Regions from separate parts of the Homo sapiens genome. Here region 1 is linked to region 2. Evidence: fine-mapped expression QTL. A gene starts in region 2. The other region holds a variant in brackets. All regions are shown on one strand. Distances are from middle to middle.

Region 1 (5,381 bases), 37 kb after region 2:
ACAGGCCCGGATGACGGCCCATCTACCTGGGCCCTGCCCAGAGCGAAAGGTCACAGGTCACCAGGCCTTGAGGAAGGACAGGAATGTCAATAATAAAGGGCTCTCTCAGGCTGGAGCCTTCTAAGAGCCTGAAGACTTCACAGTACAACCTCCAGCACCTTCTCCCACATCCCAGGGAGGAAGGTTAAGCACCTTTTATTCCTAACAGATATATCACATAATGTCTAGAATAATGAATTCTTCCTGAGGAAAAGTTTAGCTAAAGGAGCATTTGCAGCCAAAGGCACTATCTGAACCTGGGAGACCCCATCCCTGGAAAACACCTTCCCCTGAAATTACTGAAATGTCAATCACGGAGTTTTAGGATGTCCTGATAGACCCACGGGTTCAACGGGGTGTGTGTGGGGGCTGAGGGTGTGTGTGTGCATGGGTGTGGTTTTGTGCACCCCTGTGGGCACACTTGAATTTTCAACTAGTCATAGGGAACATAGGGGACAATGTTGACTGCCAAATGAGACACCTGAGAAAATAGTCCTGCCCCCCAATATAAGCGAAATACAAAGACTCAAAATGATGGAATAACTGTGCTTTTTAAAAATAAATAAATAATGGCTCAGGGAGACATCTGTGGTCCAAGAATCAGGACACTCCAGCCTCCACAGCTCTGATATGACCTTCCTGCATGACTTTGCCCAAGTACACATTCCTCTCGGAGCATTAGCCTCTGGGCGTAAAATGAAGGAAGTGCTCCTTTTCACTCTGATGCTTCTTGACTTATGGCTTCCCTTGGTAAACCTACCTAGGCTCAGACGTTTTGGCTGAAAGCCTTTTGGGGTGGACACTGTTGGGAAGAATATCCAATACAGAAAATGGTCTTGCCAACAAATTCCATCCAGACCCACAGACAGCAGATCACCAAAACATGTGAGATGACAAACATCCCTATGGCTCTCCATTCCCCACTTGGACAAAAGCTGGCAGGTTAGGCAAATAGAAATCAATAATTGGCTTTATCCATTAACATCCGAGTCAAAGCAACTCTGGATACGGCTTTATCCATAACAGATACGGCTTTATCCATTAATGGATATGACTTTCTCCATTAATATCTGAGTCAAAGCAATTCTGGAATTCCCAGCTCCATAGTGTGGAGCTTGGCATCATGAATCCAAACCACTTCCTTTCAGACCAAGATGTCTGTTCAGGCTTAATGCGGGTAGCTAACTCCAGATGTGGAATGCTGATTTGTACAATCTCCAGGCTAAAAGGGACCTTAAACTTCTTCCAATGACCATTTTCAACAACATTCCTCATTAAGTGCGCAACCAGCTTCTGCTTAAACATCTCCAACATCTGGAGCAGTTGCTGGATTCTGTTGAGCCAAAATCTTTCTCAATTTCCTAATTCTGCCCATTCTGAAACACATCTGCTCCTCCTGCCTCTAGGACAGTTCTCCTCAAATCTTCTCTTCTCCAGAGGCCCATGCCCAGCCCCGACCACTGTGGCTTAGAGCACGCGATTACTCCCTGGGTCAGCTGGGAGGGCAGGGGCTGCTGTGGATTGTGAAGCCTCACACACCCCAGCCCACCTCTCCCCAATCGGCCCCATCAGGGGCACAAAGTCTCTATCTGTCCAGCTAGTCTGGCACACAGAGTGGCCCAGGGCAGAGAAACTGGCCCAGAGTGCACTGCTAGGCCCCGACTCTTCAGTTTGCCTCAAGCCAGATGAACTTATCTATCGCCATGTTATCTGAAGGCCAAATTTCTATTTCTGCCATTTAAGATTAACATTTATGGTTACTATTTTTATAATTCCACCTCGAACATTTTTACATGAATCCTTTCACCAGATAACGGCGGCAGAGTGGATTTTCTGGTGGTTTCGGCCCCAGTCACCTGGAAAATCCTTCCGTCTCCACTTCACCTCTGCCCCCCAGACTGACTCCGTGTCATTTCAGAAAGAGAACATCAGAGGACGAGGACCTAAAAATAAGCTCAAAGTCTTGGCAAATGCTTTTCTCTCACAAGCTTCCCCTTCAGCTTCAAAATTCACAGTTAAAATTAAAAAAAAAATACTTCGTACCAAAGCAGTTGAGGCATTTTGTTAAATTCCCCCACTGAGACATACTGAGGTATGCGACTAACTGCTGAGTTCCAAGATGATATCGATCGAGCAGCTGCTATTTCTGCTTCAGCGAAAGCCACGATCCCAGCACACAGGCACGCGCTACTGTGAGGTCAGGACGAGGAAAAGAGCCAGG[A/C]CCTTTCACCCAGATCGCGGCGGCCCAGCAGGACTTGCCCGGAGTGTCTCATGCAGACTTTTGTGTGTGTGAAGAAAAGCTTTTTGTCTTGCTCTGGGCACCCTGAGGCCAAATATATAATACTTACATCCAGCCCCAAAGCCCCCAGTCTGTCTCCACTTTTAAAATCACAAACTTCATTGTAGTAATTTTCATTCTCAACTGAAATGTCTTTTCCGTATTGCAAGTTAAAACCCTGTGTTAATTCTGCTACTAAAAACATCTCTCAGCTTGAGACAGTTTGAACCTTGGGGTGTCAGGGGACGTTCACTCCAAGGATGGTCTCCTTTTCCCCGAAGGGTTCCGGAAGGGTGTTTCCAGAGCGCATTCCCCTCCTCCCCCAGGATATCCAGCTTACCTCCGTCCCCCGCACACTCTGGGATGGGATCACGGGTCTCCCACAAATTCAGGCAACCCAGTCACAGCAGAAGAGATGGTACAATGTGTGGGCTGGGGTTGGGGCTGACGGGGGAAGCTGGCAGGAGGAAAGACTCCTCTCCCTGCTCCTCAAGACTGCTGCCCCTTTCCCGCCATCCATCTCTCCCAGCCAAGCCGACCTGCAATTGGTAAAACCAGAGGCTTCACCCGGGACTTCAGGAGGCTCCCAGGCTCCAGACTGCTGCTGGCTGTAGGTTTACACCAGCTGTTTGCCAAGTAACAAAATCCAGGATGTTTCCCACTCAGACAAATTGACAACTGCCCCTCAGTTCAGACACCCACTGAGCACTGAGCACGAGGGTGCACTCTGCTTCTAGGCCAGCAGAGCCGGACTCCACCATCCCTCAAAGCCTCTCTGCACAGAGTCGGTGACTCCGCCTGCAGCGCCAGACAGCGCACGCGCACACCAGCTCTGGGTTCCGCTTCTACACCGAGGTTTCCGGGAATTCCTCGACTTCTTCAAATGCATTGAGAGTGGTTTTGCTGTTGTTCCTGGAAGAATCTTGGATTTTGTTGAAATCTGCTTTTTAAAAAAATATATATTTTAGAAATATATCACTCTGCATAGTGTGTTTCTTTTTTCTTTTTCTTTTTTTTCTTTTTTGAGATGGAGTTTCCCTCTTGTCACCCAGGCTGCAGTGCAGTGGTGTGATCTCAGCTCACTGCAACCTCCACCTCCCAGGTTCAAGCAATTCTCCTGACTCAGCCTCTCGAGTAGCTGGGATTATAGGCACCTGCCACCACGTTCGGCTAATTTTTGTATCTTTAGTAGAGACAAGGTGTCACCATGTTGGCCAGGCTGGTCTCAAACTCCTGACCTCAGGTGATTCACCCGACTCGTCCTCCCAAAGTGCTGGGATTACAGGCACGAGCCACCGCGCCCGGCCTGCATGATGTGTTTCTATGGCTTAGGGCTACGCCATTTTAAAAGTTGTGCCAACTAGGGTTCTAAAAGTCAGAGCTGGAAGAGACCTAAGAAGCATTTCCATTCAACCCTCCCATTTGACAGATGGGGAAAGTCAGGACCCTTAGACTTGATCTGCCCAAGGTTACATGGTCTGAGACAGGAGCGGACACCATGTCACCTCACAGCGACAGTACCTGTTCGTCTTACAGGCCCCGGGTCTTCGTTAAGGAAGGAGACGTGCGTCTTCCATTCAGTCCACTTCACCTCATTGATCCTGCAAATGTGATAATCATTCTTACTATTTCACCAGTGCCTCACTGAGTACTAACAAATAGCCCTGCGTTTGGGACGTCCTGGTGTCTACACAGCTCCCCTTCTGTCTGTCCTAGAGATCAGGAGCACCCCTGACCCGAGGGGTCACACCAAAGTTGTTGGAGTTTGAACTCTATCCCCATCTCCACGTCCCCAGGCCTCAGAGAATCAGTTCTCCTTCCATTGTAGGGAACTCGGAAATCCTGCAAGTTGCCCAGACAGGTGTAAAGGGTCCAACTTCAGACAACAGCTGCTGTGCCTGACTGGTGACAGCCCAAGGGGAAGCGGGGACAGACAGAGGGAGGGCCCGGGCCACGAGGGTGTGAAGATTAAACTCCAAGTGTAGCAGGGGTTGAGGAAGCACGAAGAGCCTGTGGTTAGGGTCAGTGCCCCAACAAGAGTGGGTGGCGTCTGAGGTGTTAGAATACAACCATAGGCATTGATGTGACTTCAATTCACACCCAGAGAACATCTCTAGAGTGAGGGTGGCAACATCACAACTGTTTGTTAGGGTAATGATTGCAGTCAGAAATGATGCTTTCCACGGGGCGCGGTTTCAGTCAGAGAAGTGGGTTAAGGTATGGTCATACTCCGAGAAGGTGGTCTGTAGGCTCAGGCAGTTGGGTCAGGGTAGGAGGAGGTGGGCTTATCAGAAAAGGTGTTCATGGGGCCGGGCACCGTGGCTCACGCCTGTAATCCCAGCACTTTGGGAGGCCGAGGGGGGTGGATCACTTGAGGCCAGGAATTCAAGACCAGCCTGGCCAACGTGATGAAACCTCGTCTCTAATAAAAATACAAAAATTATCCAGGCGTGGTGGCATATGCCTGCAGTCCCAGCTACCGGGGAGGCTGAGGCAGGAGAATCGCTTCAACCAGGGAGGCGGAGGTTGCAGTGAGCAGAGATCGCATCACTGCACTCCAGCCTGGAACTCCTTTTAAAAAAACAGAAAAGAAAAGGTGGTCATAGGATATGTAAGGACTTTAAAAAAAAAATGCAAAAAGCCAGAGATCTGTCAAAGTAGCCACGTCACTTTCCATCTGCCAGGGGCAAAAGGGGCCTCAAGTCACCCGGGGTCACAGGAACTCACACAGGGTAAACAGCAGGAAAAGGAGTACCCAGCAGGCAGATCTTCCCTAAACCAGATAGCGAACACAGAGAGACCATGGAGGCACCTCCAAAAAAGCAGAGAGAGGGGCTGGGTGCGGTGGCTCATGCCTGTAATCCCAGCACTTTGGGAGGCCAAGGTGGGTGGATCACCTGAGGTCAGGAGTTTGAGACCAGCTTGACCAACATGGTGAAACTCTGCCTCTACTAAAAATACAAAATTAGCCAGGGGTGGTGGCGCATGCCTGTAGTCCCAGCTACTCGGGAGGCTGAGGCAGGAGAATCACTTGAACCCGGGAGGCGGAGGTTGCAATGAGCCA
Region 2 (5,381 bases):
ATGAGACCACACCTGGCATCCTTTTGTTTTAAACTACATTATTTTATTAATACATCAGGCAACTCTATCCCACAAAACATTTGTAATGCTGGAAGTTATGCTTACTCTTTTAAGTACTTCAGAATATTATATATTCAACTTAATAATGAGATAGTGACAATTCGAAAGGGTTTCACTTCGTATACTATCAGTTCGCTGAGAACTAATAAAAAAGTGTGGTTTTTTGGGTCATCCCAAAAATCAAGTACACTTTGGGAAACAGGGAGTTAAAAATCTTTCGGAAGTTAACTTGGTATAAGAGTATGAAAAGCCTCTGTTGCTCTACTTCTGAGGAAATGCTCTCCTTTTTCCTAATAAAGCTTTCCACAGAAGACAAACTCTGTACACAAAAAACAAGGTAAGTATGGGAAATAATTGCTGCAATTCATTAACTCTCAAAAAAGTTATTCATTTTGACATGTAAGAGAAACTTTATTTATGAATGTGAAATGTGCTTCAAAGTGCTGATCTGTTAAAATTCCATAAAACAAGCTTCAAAATGCAAGTCATTTGTGCCAGCTACGAGTAAATAACTGAAGCAGCATTTCCAGAGAGACTAGGGCAAAGGACAGAACAAACTACAAATCAGCAGAAAAGAAACCAAGCATAGTAGAGTGTTAATAATTCACCATGGTTACTGCTCTTAAAACCAAAGCAACTAAACAACTGTCATCTGTTTACTTTTACGTGTGTTTTCATCATCTCTACACCGTCTGAAGTGTTCAGTGTACATGGATGTGGACAGACAGTCAAAGCCTACAGGAGCTTTTTTTTTCTATTAGAACAGTCATTTTAATGCATAGATTTGATGTGGTTATTTTGCTTTCTCTATCTCTGCATTATAAGCTCTTAAAGGAAGAACATTCAGTGGGTTTATTAAATATTAGGAAGCATTCATATTTTATTTTTCCACCATGTATTTGGTTTGTATGCATGTTTGTTTCCTGAGCACACTGTAATGGCTGTTTATGTGAATTCTGAAAGAGCAAAACTAGAACTGTGAAGAAGACCAAAAATAACAGAGAGGCACCCTATTGTCCTGTGAAAAACACTAGACTTGGGATGAGAAACATGGGTCTCAGGCCTAGGTTCTCCTACATCCCTGCAGAACCTTAACTGAGTTACTTAACCTCTCTTTCGTTTACCCCTGCAGTGGGGATGTCAACACCTAACCCACCCTATCGTATAAAATTAATGTATGAATAAACTGAGTGAAAGGACATTATAAATTAAACTCTGCAATTGTAATAAATTACTCTTATTGTACCCTCTATCAAACAACCTGGCGTTACTAGTACATGGTATTCCCAGTACTTGAACATATGTGACTTTCTGGGTGACTGAGCATGAAATCAAATCAGATTTGGCTCAGAGTCATTTCTCCAAAGGGATGTAATCATCTTAGTATTCTGGAAAATTTCCCCTAATAAGACCCCTTTTTGAGTAACACAGTCCAGTGGAGAGTCCCCGCTGACAGTGAATAAGGCTGTGTCTATGTAAGTTCACATGATGTGGTTAGCACATGCAGTGTGTCCCAAGACATTTTCAGGCATCACAAAAACTTGAAAAGTACTAACAGTTGTCTTTCCTTTGGTATTTAGGCAAAAAATGAGGAAGATTCATAAGTAAGTTAACACAGAATTACCAAAAACCTCATGAGAAAGAAATGAAGGGATGTTTCAGGGTAGCTTTTCGAGTCCCAAGTGATCATTGATTTGGCCCTTCTGTTTCTGATTGTGAAAAAGCATTCTGAAAGAATGGGCGCCGGTTCAAGAGGAGGTCTCTGAGGGTCAGCCTTTGGCTGTTTATAGAGGTGAGATTCAAATGCCCTCAGATCATGAAAAGTGCTTGAACTCATTTCAGAGAAGAAATGTTTTGAAATGCCCGTGGAAATACTGAGTGGGCCACTTTTTTATTTTGTGAAATTAGAAACGTATAAACTATTTTTATTATTACAGATAATTGTGAAAGCCTCACTGGATGACATCCTAGCTGAGGAAAAGAATGGAATTTTTGTATTAGTATGAAATGCTAATTTATTACTGTATTTAGATCTACTGACCATCTGAGGGAGTTAGAAGTTAAAGTAAACAGCTGTATCTCTAGTTGATCTTTGCATATTTTAATCCAAATATGGCAAAGGGCAGGGCTAAAGAAGGGAGTGTCCATAAACGGGGCTCAGAACTTGTAACAGAAAATTAAAATATACTCCACTCAAGGGAATTCTGTACTTTGCCCTTTGGGTAAAGTCTCATTTACATTTCTAAACCTTTCTTAAGAAAATCGAATTTCCTTTGATCTCTCTTCTGAATTGCAGAAATCAGATAAAAACTACTTGGTGAAATGACTTCTTGTCACATTGCTGAAGAACATATACAAAAGGTTGCTATCTTTGGAGGAACCCATGGGAATGAGCTAACCGGAGTATTTCTGGTTAAGCATTGGCTAGAGAATGGCGCTGAGATTCAGAGAACAGGGCTGGAGGTAAAACCATTTATTACTAACCCCAGAGCAGTGAAGAAGTGTACCAGATATATTGACTGTGACCTGAATCGCATTTTTGACCTTGAAAATCTTGGGTAAGACTATGCTTTGTATTGTATATGTATGTATGTTGTGTGAAAAGTGGTAGGTGTGTGAAAGAGAACACATATATGTATATGCAGATGATAATTCATGTCCGTACATGCAGTCGTATGTTGAATAAGATCACTTTCACTTTTAATTATACTGCATTGTGAATTGCACAATTATCTAAACTGGGCATTCACATGCTCTTTTATAAACCTTCTTAAGCACCAGATTATTAAGTTTTCTTTTCAAATGTATACAGACTGAGACAATAAATAGAAAAGGGTTTTGTTTTAAAATCATACCTTTAAAGAAACAGATTTAATACTCCTTTGCATTGAGTTAGTGTTTGGCCACTATGCTTGCATATAAAATTGTTAGCTTTTTAGGAAATTCACTACGTTTTCAAGCAACTATGCTTACGGTAATGCATAAAGTTCTAGTTCAAAAAATGTAATGTTTCAAGTAATATTTGTTGAATGAAAGCGTGATTAAATATCTTTTGTCAGAAGACATCAGACACTTTGGGAGGCCGAGGCAGGCGGATCACGAGGTCAGGAGATCGAGACCATCCTGGCTAATGCAGTGAAACCCCATCTCTACTAAAAATACAAAAAATTAGCCGGGCGTAGTGGCGGGTGCCTGTAGTCCCAGCTACTTGGGAGGCTGAGGCAGGAGAATGGCGTGAACCCGGGAGGCGGAGCTTGCAGTGAGCCAAGATTGTGCCACTGCACTCCAGCCTGGGAGACAGAGCAAGACTCCGTCTCAAAAAAATAAATAAATAAATAAAAATAAAGACATCAGACCTCCCTGTGATCCGAAGTAGCAGACGTACTTAACTTCCATGGTGGATTGTTGTAGATGGGATACCAGAGATGAGAACTAAAGACACCATCTGAATTTTCAGAGCTTATATTTTGCTGATTTGTAATATATTGCATACAACGTAAGCAGTCATAACATGCTAGGTTAGGTCCTTATTAATTATTTTTGCCTTCGTTTACATCATAATAGCTACCACTGTGGATATAATATGACTCCACATATTTGCTTTTTACCACTTCTTTCTTTCTTTCTCTTTTTGAGATGGAGTTTCGCTCTTGTTGCCCAGTCTGGAGTGCAATGGTGCAATCTCAGCTCACTGCAGCCTCCACCTCCGGGTTAAAGTGATTCTCCTGCCTCAACCTCCCGAGTAGCTGGGATTACAGGCACTTGCCACCATGTCCGGGTAATTTTTTGTATTTTTAGTAGAGACGGGGTTTCTCCATGTTGGCCAGGCTGGTCTCAAACTCCTGGCCTCAGGTGATCTGCCTGCCTCAGCCTCCCAAAGTGCTGGGATTATAGGCATGAGCCACCGCGCTGGGCCGCTTTTTTTCTTTTACTAAAAAATATTCTGAAACATCTGTTTTTCTCAGGAAACTGTGCCAGGTACTGGGGGAGTACACAGCTCTATACAACTTGGTTTCTACCCCTCAAGGAGTTGGTAGACTACTAGCTAAGATATAAGATACATGGCCGGGCACAGTGGCTCACACCTGTAATCCCAACACTTTGGGAGGCTGAGGCAGGCAGATCATGAGGTCAGGAGATCAAGACCATCCTGGCTAACACGGTAAAACCCCGTCTCTACTAAAAAAAATACAAAAAATTAGCCGGGCATGGTGGCGGGCACCTGTAGTCCCAGCTATTCGGGAGACTGAGGCAGGAGAATGGCGTGAACCTGGGAGGCGGAGCTTGCAGTGAGCAGAGATGGTGCCACTGCACTCCAGCCTGGGTGACAGAGCGAGACTCCGTCTCAAAAAAAAAAATATATATATATATAAGATATGCACAGGCACAACTAGCCACTGTTCTATGTGCTTGTTTTCTGATCAACTCTAATTTGAGTTAGATCACTCCTTAGGTTTAGTCTCAACACAGATCAAAACATGGACACTACTCTTAATAGAAACATGCCTCACTTTATGGAATAGATGTTTTTCAGGGCAATTATACTGCAGTCATCCTGTTTGTATCAAATCATATTTTTACTAGCATAAATTTTAATTTGAGAAATGCTTTATCTTCATGACTGAGGTTATGTCAACACAATTCATGCTTATCTATTGACCTAAGAGAGCTGTTAACTAACTTCTATATTACAAGTAAGAATTTGTTGAAGGATAACTTTTAGTCGGCATATTAACTTCCCAAATAGGTGTGAAATGGACTGGGGTGAGTTTATGAGCACCCAGTAGTATGCATTTCAGTGAGCACAGTCTTTTCACTTAAATTCACTTTCTGCTCCTTACTGTTAACACTGTTCAGAGACTAGACTGTTCCCAGCGTGGTTGAAAAATTATAAAATAGATAAACTAATTAACTTCTCCCATCCTGCCTCTCCCAAATTTATTCATTTTCCTATATTCCTCATCTCAGTGGTGGCATCATTATCCACCAAGTCCCCTGTGAAAATCACCCTAGAACCTTCCCAGTCCTTTGTCTCCCACGTCTAGTGGGTCACTAAGTCCTCCCAATTATTCCTTGCAAGTACTTCACAAATCCAGCCTTCCTCTCCAGTTTTACTACCTTAGTTGATTTCCTCTGTGGACAGTTAGAATAGCCTCCTAAAGGGTCTCTCTGCATCCAGACTTGCTCTGACCCTTCCTGTCATCTATTTTCCATCTGATACCTCTAGGAATCATCCTAATATGCAAATCTTATCATGTCTCTCCCCTGCTGAAAATTCTTTAAAAATGTATCCAGAATAGATTTAATCAACTTAGTATGGC

Which allele goes with the higher level. Positions count from the first base shown, and alleles are read on the strand shown. Sizes are in standard deviations (SD) of each study's normalised expression.
For the expression in adrenal gland of the gene that starts at base 2,220 in region 2, allele C in region 1 goes with a lower level than allele A (moderate effect, 0.51 SD a copy in GTEx).

Evidence for each region.
Region 1: its variant is fine-mapped to the expression of ASPA in adrenal gland (GTEx, PIP above 0.99).

The regions. Positions count from the first base shown.
Region 1 is chr17:3,510,755-3,516,135 of GRCh38, forward strand. It overlaps TRPV3 (transient receptor potential cation channel subfamily V member 3), which reads right to left. Exons shown (of 18, transcript NM_145068.4): 17 at 3,839-3,918; 18 at 1-3,257. The coding sequence ends at 3,163. It also overlaps a transcript of SPATA22 not described here. Among named protein-coding and RNA genes, the nearest start is that of ASPA, 37 kb to the left of the region's middle. The variant A/C (reference allele first, on the strand shown) is at 2,261.
Region 2 is chr17:3,473,778-3,479,158 of GRCh38, forward strand. ASPA (aspartoacylase) reads left to right here and starts at 2,220. Exons shown (of 6, transcript NM_000049.4): 1 at 2,220-2,618. The coding sequence starts at 2,383. It also overlaps a transcript of SPATA22 not described here.